Linked DNA regions of Homo sapiens. The protein of the gene in region 3 interacts with the protein of the main gene of each other region in a pairwise test. Each region holds a gene or a part of one and is shown on either strand. Other genes may lie near its edges.

What was found.
Region 1: the proteins of COX5A (region 3) and SPDEF interact in binary tests that used the Homo sapiens proteins (3 or more experiments, as listed by UniProt).
Region 2: the proteins of COX5A (region 3) and EPM2A interact in a two-hybrid assay, tested with the Homo sapiens proteins (one study listed by BioGRID).

Annotation. Positions count from the first base shown.
Region 1 is NC_000006.12:34,546,330-34,553,329, reverse strand, and holds part of SPDEF (SAM pointed domain-containing Ets transcription factor), read left to right. Parts: exon of another isoform or gene 1-912; coding exon of another isoform or gene 913-1,099; intron 1,100-7,000. UniProt on the Homo sapiens protein: May function as an androgen-independent transactivator of the prostate-specific antigen (PSA) promoter. Binds to 5'-GGAT-3' DNA sequences. May play a role in the regulation of the prostate gland and/or prostate cancer development.
Region 2 is NC_000006.12:145,723,585-145,734,539, forward strand, and holds part of EPM2A (laforin), read right to left. Parts: intron 1-10,955. UniProt on the Homo sapiens protein: Plays an important role in preventing glycogen hyperphosphorylation and the formation of insoluble aggregates, via its activity as glycogen phosphatase, and by promoting the ubiquitination of proteins involved in glycogen metabolism via its interaction with the E3 ubiquitin ligase NHLRC1/malin.
Region 3 is NC_000015.10:74,918,666-74,929,620, forward strand, and holds the end of COX5A (cytochrome c oxidase subunit 5A, mitochondrial precursor), read right to left. Parts: intron 10,568-10,955; coding exon 10,451-10,567; intron 8,223-10,450; coding exon 8,101-8,222; intron 5,106-8,100; coding exon 4,992-5,105; 3' UTR 4,983-4,991; intron 1,778-4,982; 3' UTR 1,126-1,777; downstream 1-1,125. UniProt on the Homo sapiens protein: Component of the cytochrome c oxidase, the last enzyme in the mitochondrial electron transport chain which drives oxidative phosphorylation.

The DNA.
Region 1 (7,000 bases), on a different chromosome or scaffold from region 3:
GCCCTGGGCTCTTCCTGACATTTAATGCCAAGCTCCTTCTCCTGGCTAGTTTGCATGTTTTCAGCCTGGGAGGTGCCCCCTGCCAGATTCTGCTCTCCCACCTCTCAGCAGCCGGGGTTGGGGGTGGGTAGAAAGGGGCCTCCAGACTTGGGGAGGGAGAGGCTCATCCTTCCTCCCCAGCCAGGGACCTTAGTGTGACTCTGCTGGGGGTCGGATGGGACCGGGACCTCCCCAGGATTATGACGGCGCACCACCAGGATAAAGACCCCCCTCCTTCTCCCTCTAGCTCTGGCACAGGGGAGACGTGGCTGGAGGGACTGCCCAGCCCGGGGCTCCAGCGCCTGAGACTGGTTGCGGGGCAAGGCCCAGGCCTCTCTGCTCCTGGGGTAGCAAGTTGCTTTGAGGGCTGCTGGGACCTAGCTCCTCCTGCCCCACCCTACCCTCTGTGCCAGGACAAAAGGGGGATGTGTCTCTGCTGACACTTCACAGGTGGGAACCGGTCCTGATAACCCCTTAATAACCCACTCCCACCCATCTCAACCTTGTTTGAAGCAATTTCTGTTCTTAGCCTGTCAGGACAGTTCTTTCTGGACTTTTCTCATCTGTGATGTTGGAGTCCTTCACTTTGTCCTAACACCCCTCTCCAAGCCTGGAGGTGTGCTCCAGGGCCTGAGGATCAGGGCGCAGGAATGTTTTTTCCCTTCAGCCCATCAAGATTTTACAGACCAACAACCAGGTGTGTGGAGGGCCTCTGCCTTCCCTGGCCTGTGCTGGGTCTGGAGGGGCCGCAGAAACACGGCAGATGGAGACAGCAGTCACCACTGTGGACACACACCTCTCGGGAGACAGTGAAGCCTTCTCACATCGCTGTCCTGCCTGGTGACTTCAAAATCCAGACACACAGCTGTCTTTATGAGTCCCTGTTTCACTGCTGAAGAGGCTGAGGCCAAGAGGATCGGCCAAGGGGCCTCAGGCAGGAGCAGCAGAGCTCCGGTGACATCCGTGTGTTCTCATGCCCTCAACGACCCTGCTGGGCAGGGCTGTGGGGAGCAAGAGACCCAGGAAACCTCACGACCCCTGTCCTGTGGCAAGCTGGGAGGTACGGCGTATGCGGGGCTGGAGGAGGGTAGGGAAGAGGGAAGGTACTGTGGCCGGCCCTTCAAGGAGTGTACCGGCGATTTGGGGGTGAGGACGAGACTGTGCCAGAGAGGGGCAGCCATGTGACCCGGGCTGCATCATGGCAAAGCGGGGATGTGCAGGTGGTGGGGGTATGGCAGCCTTGGTGTGGCTAAGAGGCCTGACGGGGGCACTGAGAAGTGAAATGTATTTATATACACATGGGCTCAACCAGGGCTGAAGGAAGACGTGAATGGCAATTTCTGGAAAGCCCTGAAGGTTGAGCGGAATTGTAGTTGCTATGGTGGGAAACTGGGTTCTGTCCCCGCCCCGTCAGCATGACTCACTGCAAGCCCCAGGTTTGTCTGGGCTGGGGTCCCTGCTGGCTGGAGGAGGCGGGGAGGCACTGCTGCTGGGGTGGGAGCCAGGCCTGATGGGCAGCTGGTGAGGTGCAGGACAGCCTGAAGCTGGCTCTGCTTCTTCAGAAGGGTGGGCTGAGTCTTTCAGAGCCTCCAGACATCAACTCCAGGGACAGCCACACCCCTCATCCTGCCAAAAGTGTCAGCTGTAAATGGAGTATGCCTTTGCTTACAAGGGAGCCCCAGGTGTCCACCTCTGCGTCCCCACCATCCTTCTTTAAGTCCCCAAAGCCAGGCTGATGGCAAGATGAGGGTCATGGATCGTAAAATCCAGGCAGTGCCAGGGCTAACAAAGTCCTCAGAGATGACCTGGCCTACAGAGCAGGAGACTGAGGGCTGGAGGGACCAGGGACTCACCCAGGGTCTCTCCTATGGAGGGAACAGGGCAGGGTGTCACCTGCACCTCCTGAAGTGGAGGTCTTCGTTCTTTCCAGTCCACATCCCCTTTTGGAGTAAACTCAGCCACGATGGTCCACTTGGGGCTGCGGTGGGCCTCTGTACCTCCAGGCTGCGGGCACCTGTGCTACCCACACCCCACTAAGGCAACTGCTGTGGGGCTGGGTTGGCAGGTGGCCTGAGCAGAGGCAAAGGGGATGGTCAACAGGGGCAACCTTAGGAGCTAGAAGATGCCGGGTCTGCCAGCACCAGCAGAAAGGAGGGTGGAGCCGAGTCTTGAGTTCGAGTCCCTGCTCACTCACGCATGGACAGGTGCCCCGTAGCAGGTCACAGCGCCCTTGTCCGTCAAGTGGGAATAATGCTGGCTGCCCCAGCTGGGAGGGCCCGGCAAAGCAGTTTATTCAGTTTGACCTTCCTCCTGTCCCAGAAAGCGCTGGAAGTAGTGCCAGTGAGGGTGTGTGTGGACACCCAGGCTGCCCATGCAGCAGGGCACAGAGGAGGCTTCACTGATGCAATGTGTTCCTGCTGCCCGTGGGAACTGTGGGAAGAGAAAAACCACTGGGTTCCCCTGGCGCTCCACTTTGGCTTCCAGTGCCCCGTCTTCCTGCTACGTGGCCCCGCCCCCAGCTTCCACCTGCCTCCCGCCCCACAAAGCCTCACCCACTCCCCTGTACTTCCCCCAACAGACCCCAGCTCCTGGGCCCACTAGCTGGCTCCCCAAGGTGAAACTCACACAGATCAGGGCTCCTGAAGAAGTTGTTAGGGGGACAGTTGGCCTGGACAGTTTTGTGCCCAGAGGAGGTGGGGAAAGCCCGGAGATCTAGAAGAAACCCACCTCGTCTACTCATGCTGAGTCCAAGACAGCAAGATCTCTCTCACTCAGTCACCTCCCTGCTCTCTTCTTCTGCCCTTGGAGACCCTGGGGAAGCAGGTGCTTGGAGATGGCCACAATGGGGTGCTTGAGAGAGGGCAGGAGCTGCTGGCCCGAGGTGGCAGCCTGGGCCCCCTTCCTGGGCAGCGGGGTGGTCTGTCCAGCGGGCAGAAGTGGTGCTCTGGGCAGTGAATGGAGGGCCGTAAGGAAGGGGTCTGGCACTTCTCTTGGGTCCAGCTAGTTTGAAGAGCAGTTTGAAGGGTGAGGTTGCAGCAAGGTCCTCCCTGTGGAAGGGTTGGAGGAGCAGAGAAGGGGTGGGAGGAACAGCAGGGCAAGAGAGAGGCTGGGGCCCCAAGGGGATGGGGCAGGGCAGGGGTCAGGGTGTTTGGAGAAGCCAGACATGCTACTGCGGCTGGGCCTGGTCATGGCTTTGGCTGGGACTTCCTGAGGCCTGGGTAGCCCAGCTTTTCTCCAAGGTGCTGACCAGGGCAGGCCCATGTGGCCCCTGCCCACTCTGCATGGCTCCTGGCCAAGACCTGGCCTCACCTCCACAGCCCCTGACTCCAGCCCATTTAAGGGGACCCAGGGACTTGGATGGATGGAGGGAGGGGCTGACAGACAGCTCAGTAGGCCACATGGGAAAGCCAGAGGAGGTCTGTTCCCCATCAGACCTCTTCCTCCTGCAGTGAGGCCGGCTGGGGGCTGAGCAGCAGGGCCAGAGTGGCCATCTCTGTCACTCCCTCAGTGCTCTTCTCAATGGGGACTAAAGCTGGGGTCTTGGGCTCTGGGCGGGCTGGCATTGGGTCTCAGGATTGAGGTAGGGGTGAGGATACATTTACCCCACACCACCATCTCCCCAGGAGGTAGGGCCTGAGAGCCGGGACCAAGCAGGATATGGAAGACAGGCTCCAACCCGCACAGCGACCTGGGTCCTTAGCAAACGCCTCCCAGGTGACTCCATTCCCGGAAACTGTGGTTCGGGAGCTGTCAGGGAGGGCATCTTTTGCTGATGCCAGTTGGGGTGTGGGAGTGAAAACCTGGGAGGCAAAGGGTTCAAGGGGCACATTTCTAGCCCCGAGGGGTGAGAGTAGGCAGGGTAGTGGCAGGAAAAGCTGCACTAAATCTCTCCTTTTGGGTCCCTCTGCTCACTTTCCTTAATCTTCCTTCCTGGGGGAATGGAAGGCGCTGAGAGAAGGGGCCCAAGGTGGCTAATCCCCCTGGCCGCCACCCCACCATTCTGCTCCTGTCTCTGGGCCTTGGCCTCCACCAGCTGTTACCAAACTTTCTTTGTCTGGAGTGGGATCTGGGGCCTCTGGAGCAGGAGGGAGCCAGGACACGCTGAGCCTTAATCCAGACATGTGGCTTAATCCAGAAGAGATCAACTCGAGGTTTGGGAGCTGGAGGCATCGCTCAGGAGACGGCAGCCCGTGGGACTGGCAGGCCAAGGCTGCAGGAACGCTGGGTCCTGCCATCTGAGGACCCTGGACATGGCAGACACCTGGCACGTCCCAGGACCCTTGGCCTACGGAGCAGTGGCCTGAGTGTCAGGAGGCCTCTGGTCTGGCCCTGGCTGTGCTGTGTGACTGTGGGCACCTCCCTGCCACTCTTTGAGCCTGAGCTTTTCCAGTGCACATGTGTCCCCATGGGTGGACCATCACTGATGGATTTAATCCTGGGCTGAATTGCATGGCACAGATGAGGCGAGCCTAGGAAGTCGCAGGAGGGAGCTATTAGGGAGGGCTCGCTGGGGCAGGAGGGCTTTGGGATGAATTGTGATGAGAAGGAAAGGGCATCTTAGAAAATAGCCATGTTGTGCCCACAGCACAGGGGCAGGTATGAAATGCCATTCTCATTAGAGCTTGGATTTGTGGTCACTATGTCAATCCCTGGTTCTGGTCCGGACCCTGCTGCTAATAAGCACATGAATCCCTTCCCCACTCTGGGCTTCATTGTTCCCATTCTATGAAACAATCACATAATATATGGCCCCTTCCAGCTCTGATTATCTGGGCCAGGTAGGAGGTAGACTCAGAGGTAGGCACCAGCCACTGGGATGGGGCAATGGGGAGCCATGGGAGATTCTTGAGCACAGGGGTGTCTGATGAAAGGGTGCTGCAGGGATATGAACAGTGGGGTGGAATGAAGAGCCAAGAGGTGGGGACAGACTTTAGAGCATCAAGGAGCCCAGTCAGGAGGTGGGCAGATCCCCTAGGAAGATGGGACTGGCCAGAGCATGCACCTCAGAGAGAATGTGGTCCAGTGAGCAGAACCCACACCTGGCCAGGAAGAACCCTGGACAAGCTGCACAGCCTCCCTGAGCCTCACTGTCCGCATCTATAAAGCAGGGCTCTGGAGTCCACGTCACCCTGGCTGTGGGTAGGAAAGCGGGTGATGTGGGTGAAAGCCTGGGCGTGGCACTGGTGCTCACTGCCAGGGGCTCACAGTGCCGTTCTCTCTTCTTCCCTCCTGAGGCCAGCCCAGAACCTTGAGACGCCTAGTTGCAGGTTGGGCACACCAGCCCTGGCTGCCTGACCAGTAAGCCAAGCCCCCCTACTCTAGGCCTGGGCTGCCTTGGGGACGGAGCATTCCCCACCACCCCTGATCTGCAGAGAGTCGAACCTTTCCTCCAACCACACAGTTAACCATTAACTTATTTTTCATCAGGGAAGTGTTGGAGCTAGGACCGAGGCTTGGTGGGGAGTAGATTCCTTGGCATTTAGGTATAGGGCAAGGTCAAGCTGGAATGTGGGGTATAGAGGGTGAAGGAGCCCGAGCCAGGAGTCAAAAGACCTGGATTTGGGGATTTACCTCTCTGCACCTTGACTTCCCCATTAGCAAAGTAGGGATGAGAATAAGACCTGGGCCAGATGAGGTAGCTTGTGCCTATAATCCCAGCAGTTTGGGAGGCTGAAGCAGGGGGATCACTTGAGCCCAGGAGTTCGAGACCAGCCTGGGCAACATAGTGAGACCATGTCTCTACAACAGATTTTAAAAATTAGCCAGGCATGATGGCACACACCTGTAGTCCCAGCTACTTGGGAGGTTGAAACAGGAGGATCACTTGAGCCCAGGAGGTCGAGGCTGCAGTGAGCCATGATCATGCCCCTGCACTCGACAGAGCGAGACCTTATCTCAAAAAAAGAGAGAGTAAGGCCTGTGCTGCCTTTCTCCTGGCAAGGGGATGGATGTGAGGGCTTCACATGCACTCAGCAAATGTGTCAAGGATGTGTCATTATATGCCTTCCTGGCAAAAGCTGCCACCTGCCCTGCCCATTCATCCCCACCGACCCCACACAACCATGCCTGAAACACAGCAGCTGCCTCCTGTCCTACCTGTGGCTGAGGCCAAGCAAACAGGAGGGCCACAAGGGAAGCGAGTTCTGCTTCTTGGAAAAGCTTCTGTCTCCCTGGCATGGCGCCCAGGGTGTTGGCAGAGACTGTCCTAACGTGGCAGGCATGGGGGCTCTGGGGATGTGGACGGGGCAGGAGGCAGGCAGGGGGTGATGAAGGAGGGGTGGGGGGCTGCGGGGGGGGGTCCCCAGGGGTGGAGCCACCTAGCGGGTAGGGCATGGGCACCAGGCAGGGTGGGGCCCAGGGGCAGAGCGAGCTGTTGGCACTGCCTGAGTAAATAATGTGGGCCCACAGCACACACGAGTGTTTGCACAGAAGGACTTGAAATGATTCCAGGTCTGCCCTCTGTCCCCCACATCCCCAGCCCCGCCTTGGTCTCTGCCCACCCCACCCCACCCTGACCTTTCCTTCCTTGTCACTTAAAGGAGCCCTTGAATGGGAGAGTTGAAATCAAAGGGAACACCCTTCCCTCCTGCTGGCATTTTCTCCACCACAGGAAGCTGCAGGGCTGCCATGTAACACTGGGAAGGTTGGGCACTGCACAAGGAGGGTGGGCAGAGGAAGCTGAAATTCTACCTAGGCTCCATTCGTCAAGCTATGCTATCCAGGGGGAAGGGATGTCATTTTCTGAGTTGTGTGAAATTGAATGGGCTAGCTGTGGCCCTACCGAAGTGGAGGTGTCTTCCAGACTGGGTTCTTTCCCTTGTCCCACCTGCAGAAGCAAATGCCAGCTGCATACGGAGGCTGCGCGGGTCAGTCTCACAGGGTAACTGGAGATGGATCAGGGAGCCCCCTTCCCCTCCTGCTGTCCCAGTAGGGCACCATAAATGTCACTGTTAGAGAGGAT
Region 2 (10,955 bases), on a different chromosome or scaffold from region 3:
CAACAAAAAGAACAACTAGAAAAATGGCAAAATTCATAAAATAATTGTTTTTGAATGTTGAATAAAGGGCAGTACAGGACTATAATCCCTAAGAGAAGAAAACAAACAAGATGAATGATATAAATGCCATGGATTTCTGACTTCAGGGCATTTCCAAACCATGACATAGGGATGTGGGACTTTACTCTCACATTTGGGGAGAACAAAGTGAGAGTTAAATACCAGAGATGAGAAAGCTATGCAGACAAAGAAGTCCATAAATCTGCATAAAAGTTTCCTAGATTCTTTGGCTGCATGTCAATCTGTGGATGCATAACGTAAACTTTGACAGAGTCATACAAAGAACAAACAGAAAGAAAAGAAAAATTTCTGAAAATTGTAAGCCAGACAACTTGCAGAGCTTACACAGAACTGGGAAACATTTTAGTCTCCACCAGACAAAGTGAGGAAATCTTGGGGCACTGAATACATGAGGCATTCAGTAAAGAACCCAGAGTTCATTGCTTAATAGTGGGGCTGCACTAACCTTCCTAGAGACCTGCCTTTGTAAACCTTCAAGAGGAACCTTACATAGAACAAGCTAATCCACAAGTAACTTAACTGTCAGAAACTAATCCAAATTCTATGAAACAATGGAAATTACAATGGCCAGCATGCAAACAAAAATCAATAGATACAAAAGTTAATTTATTTCCTAGATATCAGCAAAGAACAACTGAAATTTAATTGTTTAAGAAAAACTAAATATACTATTTAAAATAGCATACCAAAAACCCTTATGTATAAATCTAACAAAACTGGAGAAATATTCTATGTTCATAAGTTTGAAAACTCAATATTGTTAAGATGTCAGTTCTTCTGAACTCGATCTATAGCTTCAACACAAAATCACAGCAAGCTATTCTGTACAAGTCAACAACTGAATCTAAAAAGTATTTTGAAAAGCATATGACCAACAAGAGCCAACACAATTTTGAAGAACAAGAACAAAGTTGGAAGATTCACACTACACTATTTCAAGATTAGTATAAACCTACAGTAATGAACAGAGTGTGATACTGGTTTCAAAAAAACCAGACATATAGAACTGAATAGAGAGCACAGAAATGGACATATGCAAATAAAGTCAGGTGGTTTCTAATAAAGACAATTTAAAAAATAATGGACAGTATTTTCAAAAAATGGTGCTGGAACAAGTGGATGTCCATATGGGGAGCAAAAAGAACCTAGCCACAGACCTTATATAAAACATAAAAATTAACAGAAAATGGCTTATAAATATATACATATGTAAAAACTTCCAAAAATAACATAGGAGAAAAACTAGACGCCCTTGGATTTGGAGAAGAGTTTTTTTGTTCAATACCAAAAGCATAATCCATGAAAGAAAAAAAAAGTTGTTGGATTTTATTAATAGTTTTGTTTTGCAATGGACACTGCTACAATAAAAAATAAGTCACACACTGAGAGAAAATATTCGCAAATCACCCATCTCTCAAAGACTTGTATCCAAAATATACACAGAACTCTTAAAAATCATGAATTTAAAAATGAAAAGATCTGAACAGACACCCAAAGAATATATACAGATGGCAAATAAGTATATGAAACAATGCTCAATATCATTTATTACAGAATTGCACATCTAAACAATGAGATACCACTATGCACCTATTACAGTAGTTAAAATCCAAAACACTAACAACATCGACACTGATGAAAATGTGCAACAGGAACTCTCATTCTATGCCAGTGGAAATGAAAAATACTAGGCCACTCTAAAAGATGGTTTGGCAGTTTCTTACAATGCTGAGTAGTCTTATCACATGATTCAGCAAACCCACTCCTAGATATCTACCCACTGATATAAAAATTCATACCTACACAAAAATCTGCACACCAATGTTTATTCATAATCACCCAAACCTGGAAGCAATCAAGATGTCTTTCAATAGGCAAATAAACAAAATGTGGAACATACATATAATGGGACATCATCCAGCAATAAAAAGAAATTACAGCTACAGAAAAAAACATAGATAGATATTAAATATATTGTTAAGTGACACAAGCCAGTCTGAAAAGGCTACACACTGTACGATTCTAATTATTTGACATTGTGGAAAGGCAAAACTATGGAGATGGTAAACAGATCAGTGGTTGCCAAGGGTTTGAGGAGTGGGAAGGGTTGAATAGACAAAAGACAGAGGAGTTTCTAGGGAGGTGAAACTAGTCGAAATGAGACTATCATAATGAATACATGACACTGTGCATCATCAAAATCCACAGAACTTTATATTACAAAGAATATATTTCCCATATATATACATAATTAATATAAATGTATATTTCTTTGTTTTGCCAGCTAAGAAGGCCTACAAGCAACAATATCCCAGAAGGAAGAGGCACACTCACTGCCCAGATCTTGATTTCTAATATCATTCTACAATAAAATCAAACAGAGCTCCTTGGAGAAATGTCCAATTTTAGCGTGGAGGAAGGAGACATAAAAGATGATCTCAGAGCACCTTGTAGTGCCAGAAAGTAAGGAAGTGCTCAAAAACAAACTAAAAATCACACACACAAAGATGGGGGGATGTCAAAGAGACACAAAAGAGAAGTCACTGAAAGAGTACTCAATGGCCAAACCTGAAATAAACTGAACAAGAAAATAAAGTAGTAAGATATTTAAACCAAAGTATAAAATAATATCCGTGAATTCCTATATATATAAATAATTGAATAGGTAAATAAATGAGGGAGAAGAGACAAATCCTCCATATAAATACATTCCAGAAAATTAATGTAGATATTCTGCCCTCAAGCAGGCAGAACATAACTTCTCACTTTTTAAACGTGAGCACTGCACAGTGACTTCTTCTGAAAGACTACAGTATGGAAATATGGGGAAAACACAACTTTTACAGCAGAGAAAACTAACAAATATGACTTCAACTACATGATCAAAGTCATCACAAACGGTAGTAAGTCATGTTAATAGTATAGATCCTTGATATGATGTAATAAGGAAGGCACTTTACTTTGATGGTCTTCCCAAAAACCCATAATCCAAGTCTAATGATGAGAAAGAAACACCAGAAAAATCCCAATTGAGCAACTTTCTGCAAAATACCTGATGAATACTATTCAAAACTTTTAAGGTCATTGCAGAAATACATAAAGTCTGAGAAACTATCACAGTCATAATAAATGTAATGTGGTCATATAGATAAGGTATTGGAAGAGAAAAAGTATGTTAAGTAAAAATAATGAAATATGAATGAAATCTGGATCCTAGTTAATAATCATGTATCAATATTGGTTCCTTAATTATCACAAGTGTCATACTAATATAAAATATTAACAACAGAGGAAACTGGGTAAGGAGTATATAAGAACACTCTGTACCGTCTTTGCAACTTTTCTGTAAATCTAAAATTATTCTGAACAGTTTATTCTTAAAAATACATGTAATATAATTTATCATACCTTAAAATAATCCACAAATAAAGCTCAGCTATGGTTACTCAAAAAGGCATGGAAAGAAGTAGTCAAATACTATCAATAACTGTTAGAAAAATTAGTCAATAGAAACCACACCCAAATATGACATATATAAGGAAACGAGAAGATAAGGACACTGGCTATATCTTCAACATGGTCACGAATTTAAAGAAAAACATAAGCTAAATGAGAACAAAAGAAAAAGATGCACAAGAATACTGAATGGAACTTCTACAGATGAGAAATACAGTATCTGAAAATAAAATTTCACTGGATGGGATTCATAGCAGATTAGACCTAGAAGAAAGCCTCAATCTTCTTATTTATATAACAGAGAAATGAATATCTGCCTTGCAGTGTTGTTGTGAGGACAAAGGGTAATTTAATTGAAAGCACCTAAGAAGTAATTAGCCCATGATAAAAAAAAAAAACCTCCGTTTCTGTTCTGTGCTCTATTCATTCAACCAATATTTACTGAGCAGCTACTATGTATCAACTACAATTGCAGGATATAAAAGAATGAATAAAATACACATAGTCCCTACACTCATAGAGTTTACAATCTGGTAGGAGACAAAAACCAATAAATACACAAATAAATGTTGTACATGATATTTTTGTTTTAAACTGTAGCATGCATTGTTAGCTGCCTACCTAAAATCTACTCTACTCATTCTTCTTGGTAATCACTACCCTAATTTTTTTCAGGGAAGGAATGTGCTGGCCTAAATAAAGCACTTTCCCAGTGATATGGTTTGGATTTTTGTCCCCACCCAAATCTCATCTCCGAACAGTAATCCCCAATGTTGAAGGAGGGGCCTGGTGAGAGACGATTGAATCACGGGGGCAGACTTCCTCCTTGCTGTTCTTGTGAAAGTGCATTCTCATGAGATCTGGTTGTTTAAAAGTGTGTAGCACTTCCCCCTTCTCTCTATTCCTCCTGCTCCAGCCATGTAGGACGTGCCTGCTTCCCCTCTGCCTTCTGCCATGTTTGTAAGTTTCCTGGACCTCCCAAGCCATGCTTCCTGTACAGCCTGGAGAATCATAAGTCAATTAAGCTTCTTTTCTATATAAATCACTCAGTCTTAGGTCATTCTTTATAGTAATGCAAGAACTGACTAATACAGAAAACTGGTTCTGGGAAGAGGTGCATTACTATAAAGATACCTGAAAATGTGGAAGCAGCTTTAGAACTGGGTGTTGGGCAGAGGTTGGGACAGTTTGGAGGACTCAGAGGAAGCAGGAGGATGAAGGAAAGTTTGGAACTTCCTGGAGACTCGTTGAATGGTTGTGACCAAGATGCTGATACTGATATGGACAGTGAAGTCCAGGCTGAGGTGGTCTCAGCTAGAGATAAGGAACTTACTGGGAACTACAGTAGTCACTCATGTTGTGCTTTAGCAAAGAGACTGGCAGCATTGTGCTCCTGCTCTAGAGATTTGTGGAAATCTGAACTTGAGAAAGATGATTTAGGGTATCTGGTGGAAGAAATTTCTAAGCAGCAAAGCATTCAAGGTGTGGTCTGGCTGCTTCTAACAGCATATGCTCATATTTATGAGCAAAGAGATTATCTGAAACTGGAACTTATACTTAAAAGGGAAGCAGAGCATAAAAGCTTGGAAAATTTGCAGCCTTGCCATGTGGTAGAAAAGAAAAACCCATTTTTAGGGAGGAATTCAAGCCAGCTGTAGAAACTTGCATAAGTAAAGAGGAGTTGTATATTAATAGCTAACACAATGTAGAAAAGGCCTGGAAGGCATTTCAGAGACCTCCATAGCAGCCCCTCTCACCACAAGCCTGGAGGCCTAGGAGGGAAAAATAGTTTCACAGGCCCAGGGCCTCACTACCCTGTACAACCTCAGGACACTGCTCCCTGAATCCTAGCTTCTCCACCTCCAGCCTTGGTTAAAAGGGTCCCAAATATGTCTCAGTCCACTGCTCCAGAGGGTGCAAGCCATAATCCTTGGAAGTTTCCATGTGATGTTAAGCCAGCTAGTGCACAGAGGGCAAGAGTTTAGGCTTGGGAGCCTCCACCTAGATTTCAGAGGATATTTGGAAACACCTAGATATCCAGGCAGAAGTCTGCTGCAGCAGCAGAGCCCTCAGTGAGAACCTCTACTAAGGCAGTGCACAGGGGAAATGTTGAGTTGGAGCCCCCAAACAGAGTTCCCACTGGGGCACTGCCTACTGGAGCTATGAAAAGAAGGCCACTGTCCTCTAGACACCACAATGGTAGATTCATCAACAGCTTGCACCGTGGGCCTGGAAAAGCCACAGACACTCAATACCAGCTCATGAAAGCAGCCATGGGGGCTGTACCCTGCAAAGCCACAGGGGCAGAGATGCCCATGGCCTTGAAAGCCCACCCCTCACATCAATGTTACCTGGGTGTGAGACATGGAGTCAAAAGAGATTATTTTGCAACTTTAAGATTTTATGGCTGCTCTGCTAGGTTTTGGACTTGTGTGGGGCCTATAACCCCTTTGTTTTGACTAACGTCTCCCTTTTGGAATGGGAGTACTTAGCCAATGTCTGTACCCCCATTGTATCTTGGAAGTAATTAAGTGGTTTTGATTTTACAGGCTCCTAGCCAAAAGGGACTTGCCTTGTCTCAGATGAGACTTTGGACTGTGAACTTCTGAGTTAATGCTGAAATAAGCTGAGACTTTGGGGGACCGTTGAGAAGGAAAGATTGTATTTTACAGTGTGAGAAGGACAGGAGATTTGGGAGGGGCTGGAAGTGGAATGATATGGTTTAGATTTGTGTCCCTGCCCAAATCTCATGTCTGAATTATAATTCCTAATGTTGGAGGAAGGGCCTGGTGGAAGGTGATTAAATCATGGGGGTGGACTTCCCCCTTGCTATTCTCATGATGATAGTGAGTAGGTTCTCATGGGATCTAGTTGTTTAAAAGTGTGTAGCACTTCCCCATCTTTCTCTCTTCCTCCTGCTCCAGCCATGCAGATCGTCCCTGCTTCCCCTTCATCTTCTGCCATATTTGTTCGTTTCCTGAGGTCTCCCCAGCCATGTTTCCTGTACAGCTTGTGAAACCATGAGCCAATTAAACCTCTTCTCATTATAAATTACCCAATCTCAGCTACTTCTTTATAGCAATGCAAGAACTGACTAATACACCCAGTCTCTTCTGCAGCAGAGGTAGTCAAACACAATAGTTCTGGCCAATTCTAAACATAAAACAAAGTGGGAGTGTGGAGGTATTCTGGTGAACATTTGCTTCCTAGATTATGGGGAATACCTAAGGATGATTCTTCCACTCTTCCTTCTTCTCCCTTATTCCACTAAATGCACATGTGATGAACAGAGCTGCAGCAGCCATCTTGTTGCCTTAAGGGAAAAGCCAAGAGAATACAGTGTGACACTGCACGTGACATCCAATTTAGGCATATAGTCCTGAGCTTCTTGTGGGAAAGCCTAGCTTGACAGAGTCAATTATCTTGAGAAAATAAAGCCAAGACCTGAGAAAAGCAAATCTGAGAACAAGAGAGTGAGAGCTAGAAAGCAAGTGAGGAGAGAGAGGCTGTACTCCATGCTTCTTTCAGTTTGGTTACATGAATTGATTTTTTTAAAATTATTTTTAGACTGGTTCACATTCAGTTTCTGTTACTTGCAATTAAAGAGTCCAATCCAGCATAGTTAATGTGATTTTTAGCCTGTAATAAGTGATATAAGAAAAAGGAACAGATGTTACGAGAAAGAATCAGTAGGTAGTTAGGGAGGTCTTCTAGAAAAGCAACATGAAAGAGGAAACCTAACAAATAAACGCATGTCAGCCTGGAGAGGAGTTGAAAGAAAGGTTTCCCACCTGCCTCCTTCAACCCCTTCCCATCACCAACATGGAATAAGCATGCTCTAAACACAGCAGGGAAAGGGTTTCCTGGAAAGGACCCTAGTGTGGGTATAGGAGCTGGAGATTGGGTGAAACAAATCCTGTGATGTCTACAGACCCACACGACAGACCTAGAGGTAAAAAAAAAAAGGAAACTCCATTCAACAATAAAATATACTAAATTATCCCACCTCATGATCAAGTTCTTTTTACTTTGCCAATGATAACGATCTTAAGCCTGCTGGCTCCCCAGCCACACACCCTGAGCGGAATTTTATCCTTAACAAAATCTGCCAAATTACACAGTATTCCATGGAGTGTTCTCCCATTTAGAGGAGGTTTTCAATAAACCTAACAACTTCAACAGAAAACCACCACAGCTACCCCTACTGATCAGCATATCCTTCATTCATAAAAATGAATGGATATCCAAGGACTACCAGATACTGGAGAAAAATCAATAGAATAAAAAAGCCATCCTGAAAAAACAATTGACTACAGAGCACATGTATGTTTATAGCAGCAAAATTGACAATTGCAAAGATATGGAACCAACCTAAGTGCCCAATGACTAATGAGAACACAGGAAAACAAAACCAAACACCACATGTTCTCACTCATAAGTGGGAGTTGAACATAGAGAACACATGGACACAGAGAGGGGAACATCACACACCAAGGCCTGTTGGTGGGTGGGGGTTGAGGGGAGGGAACTTAGAGGATGAGTCAATACGTGCAGCAAACCACCATGGCACATGTATAATACTTATGTAACAAAACTGCACATTCTGCACATATATGTCATTTTTTAGAAGAAATTTTTTTAATGAACAACAAAAAAAAGAGAAAGAAATCATAGAAAATTTCCCTGAGTTGAAGGAAACAATTCCTGGAATTTAAAGAGCCAACCAAGTGCCAAGTGATAAAACAGACTGCTAACAGGAATGGGCTTAGTTTCACATTAGAATTATCAGCCACAGCTGATAATTATCAGCTAGAAATTACTGAGGCAAAGTCTTCAAAGGAAAAATTATTTTAAGACCAGAATACTGTACCAAATGATCAATCAAGTGGGAAAGCCAAATAAAGACATTTTAGGAATTTGAGGGCTCAGATATTTTCTCTCTGATTTTACCATTTCTTGAAAATTTTCCAAAGAAATGATTAAGGTTTTTAAGAAAGAGGAAGATATACCATTTAAAACAGTGCAACTAACATAGGAGTTCGATTGTTTTCTTTAAAGTCTCAGGTTTACAGCTAAGACTTGTGTGTGTGTGTGTGTGTGTGTGTGTGTGTGTGTGCGCGCCAAAGTAAGGAAGGGAGAGGAATGTGTAAGTAAGCTATTTTTCTTATCCTCTCATATAGGGGTAACTTCCTGCATAATAGGATTATGAGAATGAACTTTCTATGTAACAGAAAGTCAACGGTCAATATTTTATATAAAACTGATACATATATCAGAAACACACACACACATATATATATATATATATATATCAGAAAGCCATATATTAGTGAAAAGTGAAAATTAGAACAGGAATCCTAATTCTTCAAGGAAAAAATTCTATTTCCAAGAAATAAGCAATATGCATTCATCAAGTAGTGCAATTAAGCTAGGACATTGTGAGAACTGGTTTAACTCTTCTGTTAAAAAAATTAATAACAAATTTTTAAATAAGTTGTAGAAGAACATTACAGTCCAAATATGAAGTAAAACAAATTCTAGTACCATTTTAAGTAAAATCTGAACATGATTTATAGTGAAGAAAAGAGAATTTTTCCTTGCAGTGGTACAGTTTTCATGTCACAAAATTTTATTTCCTTGTTTACGAGTCTAATTGCACAACGTGGTTTCCCAATAATCATAGTAAAAAATAATAACTAGCCCTTATTTAACATTTACCATATGTCCTCTTGTAAGTTCTTAATATATATCCTATTCTACAAAATACAGTTCATTTATTAGGCAGCTTGGTCCTTTCATTGTGAGCTGAGGTGACACGCCTCAAATCCCACACTGGTTGGTGAGCCCAGGCAATCTGGCTCCAGAATCCTTGCTCTTAAACACTTGGCTACCCTGCTTCTCATAAAGCTCTCTGTTAATTTACGATGTTTAGAATCAGTCTATTTACCTTAAACAAGAAGGCACTGTAACAATTAGAAAATAGAATATAAATTATATAAAACTTGATAATGTAAAAGTCATAATAAACCAAAGTGAGACAGGAAGAAATTGTAATATTTTTCTTATCCTCTCTTATAGGAGTAACTTCCTAGAAAGTCAACAGTCAATTTTTAATACAAAACTGAAAATAATTCCTGCTTGGATAGTAAAGAAAAATATTTATCAAAAAAACTGAAAATAATAGTAAAAAAAAATCAGCAGGGAAGACAGAGAGTGAACTTGAGCTAAATTCCTCATATTTCATAACAAGTGTGATGGTTAATTTTATGAGCATCCAGTAGGTGTCAATATCTATTGCCTAATTTTAACTTTTAAAATTATATATAACTTATATGGTAACTATTAGAAAAATTAAAAACAAAAGTTTGTGGTACCTTAAGAAATAGCAACATAAGCAAACTATTAACGGCATAGGGAGGACTATCAGAAAAGCTAAATAACTAGGGAAAGGGAAGATCTTTGTTTCACACCATTTCCATTTTTATTACAATTATCAGATATTATTTTAAAAAATAATTCTACAATACTATGAAAAATAGTAATACTCTGTAAAGAAAGGATAAACTGAAGAGGGTATCTTTCAATTCTGTCATGGTAAAATAACAGACCAATAAATGCTACCAGACCATAAGCCCAGTGAGGTAGAGAAGGAGAACAAGGATAATATATAAACACATTCCACTCTAATCTTCTTTACTGATTCTTTGTTTCTACATCATTACAGGCTAAATGGCCCATTTTTTTTTTCATATAAACTTCTAAAGAGACATTCATTTCATTGACTTCAACTATTGAGTCACACCCACTCCAGTCTACAACCTTGCACATTTCCTTTAAAGAAAGGAGCTGTCTCAATTCAGACACTGTTGGCGGGAGCCGACATTAGATAATCACCCTTTTAGGGCATAATTTAGCAGTCTTTAATGAAGTGTTAAAAAAAATGACTGCATTTTGACCTAATAATTTCACTTCTTTGAATCCACTCTGCAGAAACACTCCCGAATGTTCAAAGATATCTGTAAAAGGAATTTCAATTAAGCCACTACTGTTTACGACAGAGGAAAACTGAAAAGAACCTAAATGCACATTGGTAGATGCAGAATAATTTGTTGCCATTTAAAATATACATCTACATGTAAAATACATATCTACGTGTAGTGACAGTGAAAGATGTCCCTAACATATTGTTAGGCAAGAAAAGCAAAAATTCAGAATTACTATACAATTTTTGTAAAAAAAAAAAGTATATGCATATATCACATACATAAATGTGTACAAGCAGTGTGCTTAAGATGTGTGGAGGAAACACTGTAAGTTTTCACTATGTACATTTCTTTATTATTATTTTACAACCAGCATGTATTGTTTTAGTATTTTAAGAAATCAGGTCATGTCTCAATTGTCATATATCTGGGATT
Region 3 (10,955 bases):
GTCCTCCATTCAGCATTTCACAGGTATACACATGTAAAAGCTCAAGCTACATACTTTAAGATTTGCACACTTGGCTGCATGTAAGTTATACCTTACTAAAGTTGCTCTCTTCTTTCCCTCTAAATGTACCTGCTTCCAGTTTCGGCCTTCAACGTAGTTCACATCTGCCTCCAAACAGCCTCCTTGGAAGTCTTACTTTTTGCTGTTTCAAACCTTAAATTCTTTTCTCTAGTCTCAGTCTCTTTTCAGAGCTCTTGTCGTAACTAGCCCACGGATGCCTGAAATTTAACAGATCCAGAATCAAATGTAGCAATTTCTCCACTCTGCACCAAGGTCCTCCTTTTGCTGACTCCTGTATGAATGGCATCACCACTCAAATCTCAAAAATGGCCTTCCCAGAGTTCTCATTTCCCCTCATCGAATTACTTATTAACTACACCTCAATAATGTGATTCTCAAAATTCATCCCTTTCCATTCCTATGGCTACTACCCTAATTCAAAATCCCCATTAAGTTATAACCACACTGTGCCTAACTTTTATCCCTACCTCCAGTGTCTCCAGGTTCCAATATTCACTGTCTCTCCTGTTCACTGCTTTACCTTCAGTGCCTGGCATGTTTGTTAGACAGTAGGTGTTCGACAAATTTTTGTAGCATGAAGACCATCACAGCATTTATCTCACCCTCATAGATAACTGTGACCCTATGTTCCTTCCTCTGCTCCTCCCATGACATGAGGAACGAGACCATTTTTATGGCAGTGAGGAGGAAAGCGCTGGCCCACAGTGGGATCAAACCTAAGAACCATGGCCTACCAACTATACATTAAAAATATGTGCCATTTTAGTTTCACATTTCTACTTCCTAAAAACTGGGCAGGGGGTTTTCTGGTAGCGGATCAGCCTTTATAAAAGGTCTCACTAGTATTAGAACTTCACCAAAACTGATTTTAATAACAATCCCTTACATGGCTCTAGGAGAGAAGACATCTAAATTTCAAGCTAATATTAATTCAATTTCCCTAATACTGCAGTCTGGACTGGCTATACTAGAAGTCACCCAGATCTAGAACCTCTTTATCCAGCAGCTGGTTCTAGTATTATGGCGCTTCTAAGACAAGCAGGATTTGTTTTACTCAGCTGTTTAATCAGAATGCCTCCAAATTTACAAAGCAAATGTTTTAATGTCCAAGGCTAATACACCACTGCAAGGGAAGAACAGGTAGGAAAGGAAAGGGGCACTAAGAGAGGAACACACCGTAAGAGGGCTTGGCTACTGCATAGCACATCCTCAAGACTATCTCAGTGACCACTTTTAAACATCATTAAAACCTGTTTTGGAAAGGTACACAATTTGATCTATCCCCACAGACAACCAGTCCCCTAAGCCTAGGGTGTCAACAAGAAAATTCTATATAAATGACTTCTAGCCTTCAGCTAATTTACAAGCTAGGGCACCCAAACATATTAATGAAGCTGATTTTCATGTCAGATGGTTTCCAGAGAATTAACACAGTTCTCTCAGCATGTAAGAGGGCAGCAAAACCATGAAACCAATACAGCACTTAATTTTCTGCTTATTAATGCAAACACATGAAACAAATACCTAATTTCAGTTCAAACTCATTTCCCTTTTATTAAAGTCCAAGTTACCATTACATGGCTTGGTACTCAATAAAGGAAAACTTGTTCAAATAAGGTAATATGTTATCATCAGTATTTCCAGGTAACTGTTCACACTCAAGTAGCAATGTCAATAAATCCTTGGGGAAGCCCATCTGTAAGAGAAAACACAAAGAATTAGCCAGGAAAGAATAAAGAAAAAGTAGAAATCTTTTAAAAATAACCCTTAGTGCTACAACCAGGGAAATCACTGTCTCTCTGTACCCTTTACTGCTCTTACTTAATCCTGCCTACTGTCAACCCACAAGCGACTAGCTTTGTGGCTTTTTTGTTGTTTATACACTGGTACTTCCTTCCCAATCAGAAAAGTGTCCAGTAGCTGCCATTTAACAAAAGAAATTTTTTTTGGGCCGGACACGGTGACTCATGCCTGTAACGCTAGCCCTTTGGAAAGCCGAGGCGAATGGATTGCCTGAGCATAGAAGTTCAAGACCACCCTGGGCAACACGGTGAAACCCCGTCTCCACTAAAATACAAAAAATTAGCCTGGTGTGGTGGCCCATGCCTGCAGTCCCAGCTACTCGGGAGGCTAAGGCACGAGAATCTCTTCAACCGGGAGGCGGAGGTTGGAGTGGGCCGAGATCGCTTCATTGCACTTCAGCATGGATGACAGAGCAAGACTCTGTCTCCCAACAAAAAAAAGAAAAAAAGAAAAAAAGTTAGTATAGCTAGAATATATCCTACATAAAAAAGATCTTCTGGACCCCTTGGAATAATACTTGATAAAATGAAAACTAAAACCATCTTTTAGGAGTTCATTATAGAATATGAACCACAGGGCTGGGCGCGGTGGCTCACGCCTGTAATCCCAGCACTTTGGGAGGCCGAGGCAGGCAGATCGCGAAGTCAGGAGATTTGAGACCATCCTGGCTAACACGGTGAAACCCCGTCTCTACTAAAAATACAAAAAATTAGCCGGGCATGGTGGCGGGTGCCTGTAGTCCCAGCTACTCGGGAGGCTGAGGCAGAAGAATGGCGTGAACCTGGAAAACGGAGCTTGCAGTGAGCCGAGATCATGCCACTGCACTCCAGCCTGGGTGACAGAGCCAGACTCCGTCTCAAAAAAAAAAAAAAAAAAAGAAAAAGAATATCAATCACAGGGCCAGACGCGGTGGCTCACACCTGTAAGCCCAGCACTTTGGGAGGCTGAGGCGGGTGGATCACCTGAGGTCAGGAGTTCAAGACCAGCCTGGCCAACATGGCGAAACCCGGTCTCTACTAAAAATACAAAAATGAACCGGGCATGGTGGTGGGCACTTGTAATCCCAGCTACTAGGGAGGCTGAGGCATGAGAATTGTTTGAACCCAACAGGCAGAGGTTACAGTGAGCAGAGGTCGTGCCACTGTACTCCAGCCTGGGCGACAGAGTGAGACTCCGTCTCAAAACAACAACAAAAAACAAACAAGAGCTTCAAAAGTATAACTAGGAAAATTTCCATTCTGAACAACTAGTTTTCTTTAAGTACTCACAGAAGTCAAAACCATTGCATATATTATAAAGATGAGCTACTTCAGGGAGGTTGTGCTGGTGAGGGGGTGGACAAAGATAAAATGAAAAGACCATTGCTTTTGGCTCACACCTGAAACCCAAATAATTTGGAAGGCCAAGGTGGAAGGATCACTTGAGCCCAGGAGTTCAAGAACAGCCTGGGCAACATAGTGAGACTCTGTCTCTATAACAAAATTAAAAATAAATAAATTAAACAAAAACAAACAAAAAGACCACTCCGTTAAAGCAAGCTTTAAAACGAGATCCCACCTGGGCGTGGTGGCTCATGCCTGTAATCCCAGCACTTTGGGAGGCTGAGGCGGGTGGATCACCTGAAATCAGGAGTTCAAGACCAGCCTGGCCAACATGGTGAAACCGTCTCTACTAAAAATACAAAAATTAGCCGGGCATGGTGGTGCATGCCTGTAATCTCAGCTACTTAGGAGGCTGAGGTACAAGAATCGGCTTGAACCCGGGAGGCGGAAGTTCAGTGAGCCGAGATCATGCCATTGCACTCCAGCCTAGGTGACAGAGTGAGACTCCGTCTCAAAAAAAAAAAAAAAAATCTTAAAAGTAGATTACAAAGTTTTCAGCATTTTCTGTTCAGTTTCTCAACAGGAAGACTGAATATAAAAATTCCTTGAATTCTGAATATTTTTCTTTCTATGTATGTATGTATTTAATTAACTAAAGGAGACAGGGTCTCACTATGTTGCTCAAGCCAGTCTCAAACTCCTGATACTCCTGAACTCAAGCAATCCTTCCACCTTAGCCTCCCAAAGTGCTGAGCTTACAGGCATGAGCCATTGCTGCCAGCCAAGTTGAGTCTTTTTTTTTTTTTTTTTTTGAGACAGAGTCTCACTCTGTCACCCAGGCTGGAGTACAGTGACACAGTCTCGGCTCACTGCAACCTCTGCCTCCTGGGTTCAAGTGATTCTCCCGCCTCAGCCTCCCGAGTAGCTGGGACTACAGGCACATGCCACCACACCCAGCTAATTTTTGTATTTTTAGTAGAGACAAGGTTTCACCATGCTGGTCTCGAACTCCTGACCTTGTGATCCACCCGCCTCGGCCTCCCAAAGTCCTGGGATTACAGGCGTGAGCCACTGTGCCCAGCCCAAATAGAAATACTTTAAACACACCAAAGCAAATGTGGCAACAATAAAAGTATCTGAAAATCTGGATATGTGTACACAGACTCACTATATTATCATCTATGCTACTGTTTATGCCTAGAATATTGTATGAAGATTTTTCTTTAATTAAGGTGGCTTTTATTTGTCTTTCTACCAGTAAGAAAATAATGATGCCGGGCGCGGTGGCTCAAGCCTGTAATCCCAGCACTTTGGGAGGCCAAGGCAGGTGGATCATGAGGTCAGGGGTTTGAGACCAGCCTGGCCGACAGGATGAAATCCCGTCTTTACTAAAAATACAAAAATTAGCCAGTTGTGGTGGCATGTGGCCTGTAGTCCCAGCTACTTGGGAGGCTGAGGCTTGAATCCAGGATGCGGAGGCTGCAGCGAGCCTAGATTGCACCACTGCACTCCAGCCTGGGCAACAGAATAAGACTCCATCTCAAAAAAAAAAAGACGAAAGAAAGAAAAGAAGGAAAGAAAGAAAATAATGACAACAACTAGAAATCATTTCAGTTCTTTAAATTTACCATTACTGGTATTCTCAAAATCTCTTCATGCTCACGGCCATTACCTCTAACAAGAACACTGAAAGGTCTTACTATAGCACACTGAAATGTCATCCACCCACACCTCTCTGGATTGTTTTCCTGCCTTCTTCAGTGGTTTGTCGCTTACCCATGCGGTTTACACTTTGTCAAGGCCCAGTTCCTCCGGAGTGGAGATTCCCAGTTCATTTAAAGTTGGTCTAAGTTCCTGGATGACATAGGGGTAGATTTCCTTATGAGGTCCTGCTTTGTCCTGATGGCAAAGAGAATATTCACATTTAACTCTCTCAAAAGCCATGTCTATTAATTCATGAAATGAACTTAAAAATGCCTTTAATTACTTATGCAGAGGCAGGTAGGACAGAATAATACAGGTGATCAGCTGGGCATGGTGGCTCACACCTGTAATCCCAGCACTTTGGGAGGCTGAGGCGGGCGGATCACTTGAGGTCAGGAGTTCGAGACCAGCCTGGACAACATGGTGAAATCCCGTCTCTACTAAAAATACAAAAATCAGCCAGGTGTAGTGGCACATGCCTGTAATCTCAGCTACTCGGGAGGCTGAGGCAGGAGAATCGGCTTGAACCCGGGAAGCGGAGGTTGCAGTGAGCCAAGATCACGCCACTGCACTCCAGCCTGGGTGACAGAACAAGATTCTATCTCAAAAAACGAAACAAAACAAAACAAAACAGGTCATCTACTTTTAAGTTAACACATTTGTTCGGTAAGTAGGGCAACTTGCTGGGTGCCGTGGCTCATGCCTGTAATTCCAGCACTTTGGGAGGCCAAGGCGGGTGGATCACAAGGTCAGGAGTTCGAGACCATCCTGACCAACATGGTGAAACCCCGTCTCTACTAAAAATACAAAAATTTGCTGGGTGTGGTGGCACGCCCCTGTAATCCCAGCTACTCGGGAATGCTTGAACTAGGGAGGCGGAGGTTGCAGTGAGCTGAGATCATGACACTACACTCCAGCCTAGGGGACAGAGCGAGACTCTGTCTCAAAAAAATAATAATAATTAAATAAAAATAAAGAGGGCAACTTATATATGTACTGTTCAAGGTAGGCTTTTGAAATACCTTGAGAATAACTGCAATTGGACTAAATCCAGAACATCTTAAAGTCTAGAATTACTGGAAAAGAAGGTAGTGATGACAGAATTTTGTGAAGGCAATTAGACATGCCCAGCAGGCAACACGAATAATTAAGTTAACGGGAAAAGTTTTTTCATTTGCCTCCAATTTGAGACCTTAACTGAATTAACTACCAGTGCTGAATGGATTGATAGCCTACAGAACCCTTAATTATCTTACCCATTATAGATAAAGTAATGTCACACTTTTGCTGTTAACGGACCTTAAGTTTCTTTCTTACAGACCACAGTATCTTTTCATGGAGAGCTGTACTTTGAGAATACATATGTCCAGGGCTGGAGACTTTTCACTGTAATATATAGTTACACCTGTGCTGTCACAAGGTTCCTTAGGAACGAATAAGAAGTCAAAAGAACTAAGAAAGTGCCGGCCGGGCGTGGTGGCTCACGCCTGTAATCCCAGCACTTTGGGAGGCTGAGGCGGGCGGATCAACTGAGGTCAGGAGTTTGAGATCAGCCTGACCAACATGGAGAAACCCCGTCTCTTAAAATACAAAATTAGCCTGTAATCCCAGCTACTCGGGAGGCTGAGGCAGAAGAATTGCTTGAACCCAGGAGACCTCGGAGGTTGCAGTGAGCTGAGATCACGCAATGATTGCACTCCAGCTTGGGCGACAGAGTGAGACTCTGTCTCGAAAAAATAAATAAACTCAGAAATTATGACCAAATAAGAAGGAGGAAAATTAGTATATATCCTCCTATGTTTTCATATAATGTATATATATATTTTTTGAGATGGAGTTTCTCTCTCTTGTTGCCCAGGCTGGAGTGCAATGGTGCCATCTTGGCTCACTGTAACCTCTGCCTCCCGGGTTCAAGCAATTCCCCTGCCTCAGCCTCCCGACTAGCTGGGATTACAGGCATGCACCCCCACGCCCGGCTAATTTTTTATTTTCAGTAGAGATGGGGTTTCTCCATCTTGGTCAGGCTGGTCTCGAACTCTTGACCTCAGGTGATCCACCTGCCTCAGTCTCCCAAAGTGCTGGGATTACAGGCGTGAGCCACCGTGCCCAGCCGACACAAATATGTTTAAAGTCAAACACATTTCTACAGTATCAACAGTTGTGTAGTATAACCAGTTCTGGGAAGCTCCCTCTTAAGAATTCCTAACATTTCGTATGACAAATAGCAAGAAGATGAATACACTTTGTAGTTAAATCTTTATATATCCTTTATTATTTCCTTGATAAATTCCTTTCTTTTTTTTTTTAGAGACGGAGTTTCTCTCTTGTTGCCCAGGCTGGAGTGCAATGGTGCGATCTCAGCTCACTGCTACCTCCGCCTCCCGGGTTCAAGCAATTCTCCTGCCTGGGCCTCCCAAGTAGCTGGGATTACAGGCATGTGCCACCATGCCCAGCTAATTTTTTTTTTTTTTTTTTTTTTTTTGAGACAGAGTCTTGCTCTGTCACCCAGGCTGGAGTGCAGTGGCGCTGTCTTGGCTCACTGCAAGCTTTGCCTCCCGGGTTCACGCCATTCTCCCGCCTCAGCCTCCTGAGTAGCTGGGACTACAGGCGCCTGCCACCACACCCGGCTAATTTTTTTGTATTTTTAGTAGAGACAGGGTTTCACCGTGTTAGCCAGGATGGTTTCGATCTCCTGACCTCGTGATCCGCCCGCCTCGGCCTCCCAAAGAGCTGGGATTACAGGCGTGAGCCACCGCGCCTGGCCTAATTTTTATATTTTTAGTAGAGACAGGGTTTCACCATGTTGGCCAGGCTGGTCTCAAACTCCTGACATTGCATGATCCACCCGCCTTAGCCTCCTAAAGTGCTGGGATTACAGGCATGAGCCATCACACACGGCCAAGATAAATTCTTAAAAAAGAAAGAAAAAAAAAAAAGAGAGAAAAAAGAAAAAAGATAAATTCTTAAATGGAATTGCTGAACAAAAGTGTATCATGTACAATTTGTAAGGCCTTGAATAAATGCTGCCAAAGTAGCCTCTAGAAAGATTTTAACTGCAATGTACATTCCTTCTAGTTATATAAGGACTCATTTTAGGCATTTTAACAAATTCAAAAATACAGAATATTCTGATACCTCAGCAATAGCCCACTCATTTACAGAACAATTTTAGCATTATTATTTCACTGACCTTAACAACCTCTAGGATACGAACTGTACTAGCAAAATCATTTAACCGTCTGCATGCCCGCAAAGCAGCATCAATGATTTTGGGCTCTGGAACCATATCATAGGTAACAAGTGTGTTTATCCCTGCAAAATTAAAAAGAAGGGCCATGTCAACCTCGAAGAGCCTCACTTAAACTATGAGTTATTTATATTTTTACTGAATCACTGATGTATGATCTTATCTGTCTGGGTCTCCATTCTCTTACCTATAAAATGAGAGAAACCTACCTTTAACAAATTCTAGATAATAAGATCACAGTGGATCTCCCTTAGTGAATCAGTGGAAAGAAAGAACTATGCAACAGCACGCAGATTGAAGGAAAAAATCCTGAGTTTTTTTTTTCCCCTTTGAGAACAAGAGGGTCATTTTCAACTCCTAACTTTTTTTTTGGAGATGGAGTCTTGCTCTGTCACCCAGGCTGGAGTACAGTGGTGCCACCTCAGCTTACTGCAACCGCTGCCACCTGGGTTCAAGTGATTCTCCTGCCTCAGCCTACCAAGTAGCTGGGATTACAGGCGGGTGCCACCAAGCCCAGCTAATTTTAGTATTTTTAGTAGAGACGGGGTTTCAGCATCTTGGCCTGGCTGGCCTTGAACTCCTGACCTCGTGATCCACCTGCCTCGGCCTCCCAAAGTGCTGGGATTACAGGCATGAGCCACCACATCCGGCCCTCCTATCTTTAACTCTTAGTACAATGAACACATTTTGGATGCTTTAAAAGAGATTCAAGGCTGGGCTCAGGTGGATCACCTGAGGTCAGGGGTTCAAGACCAGCCTGGTCAACATGGAGAAACCCTGTCTCTATTAAAGATACAAAATTGGCCGGGCGTGGTGGCACATGCCTGTAATTCCAGCTACTCTCGAGGCTGAGGCAGGAGAATCACTTGAACCCAGGTGGTGGAGGTTGCAGTGAGCTGAGATCGCGCCATTGCACTCTAGCCTGGGCAATAAGAGAGAAACTCCATCTCAAACAAAACAAAACAAACAAACAAAAAAACCAAAATAAAAGAGATTCAACTGGAAAACAGCCTAAAAACAGCCAGAGAAATGCGTAGAGTTAATGAAGCCTAAATGAGGACATTAAGGAGATATTATAGAGAAACATTAGTACACAGACTCATAAACATTCAACCAGAAAATGATTGGGCATGATTACTTTCAGATCTGCACAAAATGACACATAATAAAATTTAAGATTCTCTTAATGGGAATACATAATTGTTCTTTTTATTACTTCTACTCCAGATTGTTCAGTAAGAATTCTATTGGTTGTAGCAAAAGGGAATCATTACATTTCTGCAGAGAAGTTTAAAGCACTTAGGTTTCTTGCTTTTATTACTTTAAAATATTTAAACAAAGGATACCAGTGAATACGATAGTCATTGAGATTGAATTTTTGGTATGAGATAAATTACCCTACACCTAATTCTATTTTTTCATGTTAAGTGTGCATCTGCAAATTTAGGAAAGACAAGTTCTAACTTACTTAGATACTTATTCATGGCAAAACAATGCAAAAATAACAAAAAACCCAAACCATCACCCAAAGGGGAAGGGAACCAAATGACTGCTTTGTGTAAATTCTTTTTTTTTTTTCTGAGACAGAGTCTCACTCTGTTGCCCAGGCTGGAGTGCAGTGGCGCGATCTCGGCTCACTGCAAGCTCTGCCTCCCGGGTTCACGCCATTCTCCTGCCTCAGCCTCCCGAGTAGCTGTGACTACAGGCGCCCGCCACCACGTCCGGCTAATTTTTTTGTATTTTTAGTAGAGACGGGGTTTCACCATGTTAGCCAGAATGGTCTTGATCTCCTGACCTCGTGATCCGCCCACCCTGGCCTCCTAAAGTGCTGGGATTACAGGCGTGAGCCACCGCGCCCGTGCTATGTAAATTGTTTGAAATGTACAAAACTGTTACCTTTTGCTCATCTAGCCTTATTGCTATAGCAGTGGTTTTCAATTAAGGGTGACTTCATCCCTCAGGAGACACTGGGTAATGCCTAGAAACATTTTTGGTTGTCATGATACGAATGTGTGCATACTGGCTCCTAGCAGGTAGAGGCCAAAGGTGATGCTAAACACCCTACAGTGTAAAGGACAGTCCCCTACAACAAAGAATTATCTGGCCCAAAATGTCAATAGTGCCTGCCTTAAAATCCTGCTTTATAGGTAGCCATAAACTTTCCTAACTGCAAGTTGCATGAAGTAACCAGTTTAAACAACGCATGTTTTCGAAACAGTTGCTCTCAATAAAGGAGCAGAAGCAGTTCATATTTACACACCAAAATAGACAAATATGTTTATGTTCCAATTACCTTTACGCAATTCCCAGGCATCTATATCTGGCTTGTTGAAGTATGTTACCCAGCGAGCATCAAACTCCTCATCTGTCTCCTGTGACCCATGGGAATAGCAGCGAACTGACTGGATAGCTATAATGTGAAAGAACCATAACTTCAATGTACACAAATAGTACTTGATATATTTTGTTCAATGCATTAAATTTTGAGTTGACTATATATGTTGTGGCAGCAAAAATATTGAACAGGTCAAATGAAATACATCGTATACATTGATACAGAAAGATATATTTTAAATTAAGCAAATAAAATCAAGTAGAACAAAAAGTATTACATAGGCATGTTTATACTTTTCTCCCTAATGTATAATACTCGCTTGAAATTATTAACAGTGGTTCCCTCTGATTTTAAATTAACAGTGATTATCATGGGACGTAAAAACTACTTTATATACTTCCATATTGTTTGAATTTTTACACATAACCAGAGTATTAATTCCTAAGTAAAAATGTCCCAGGTG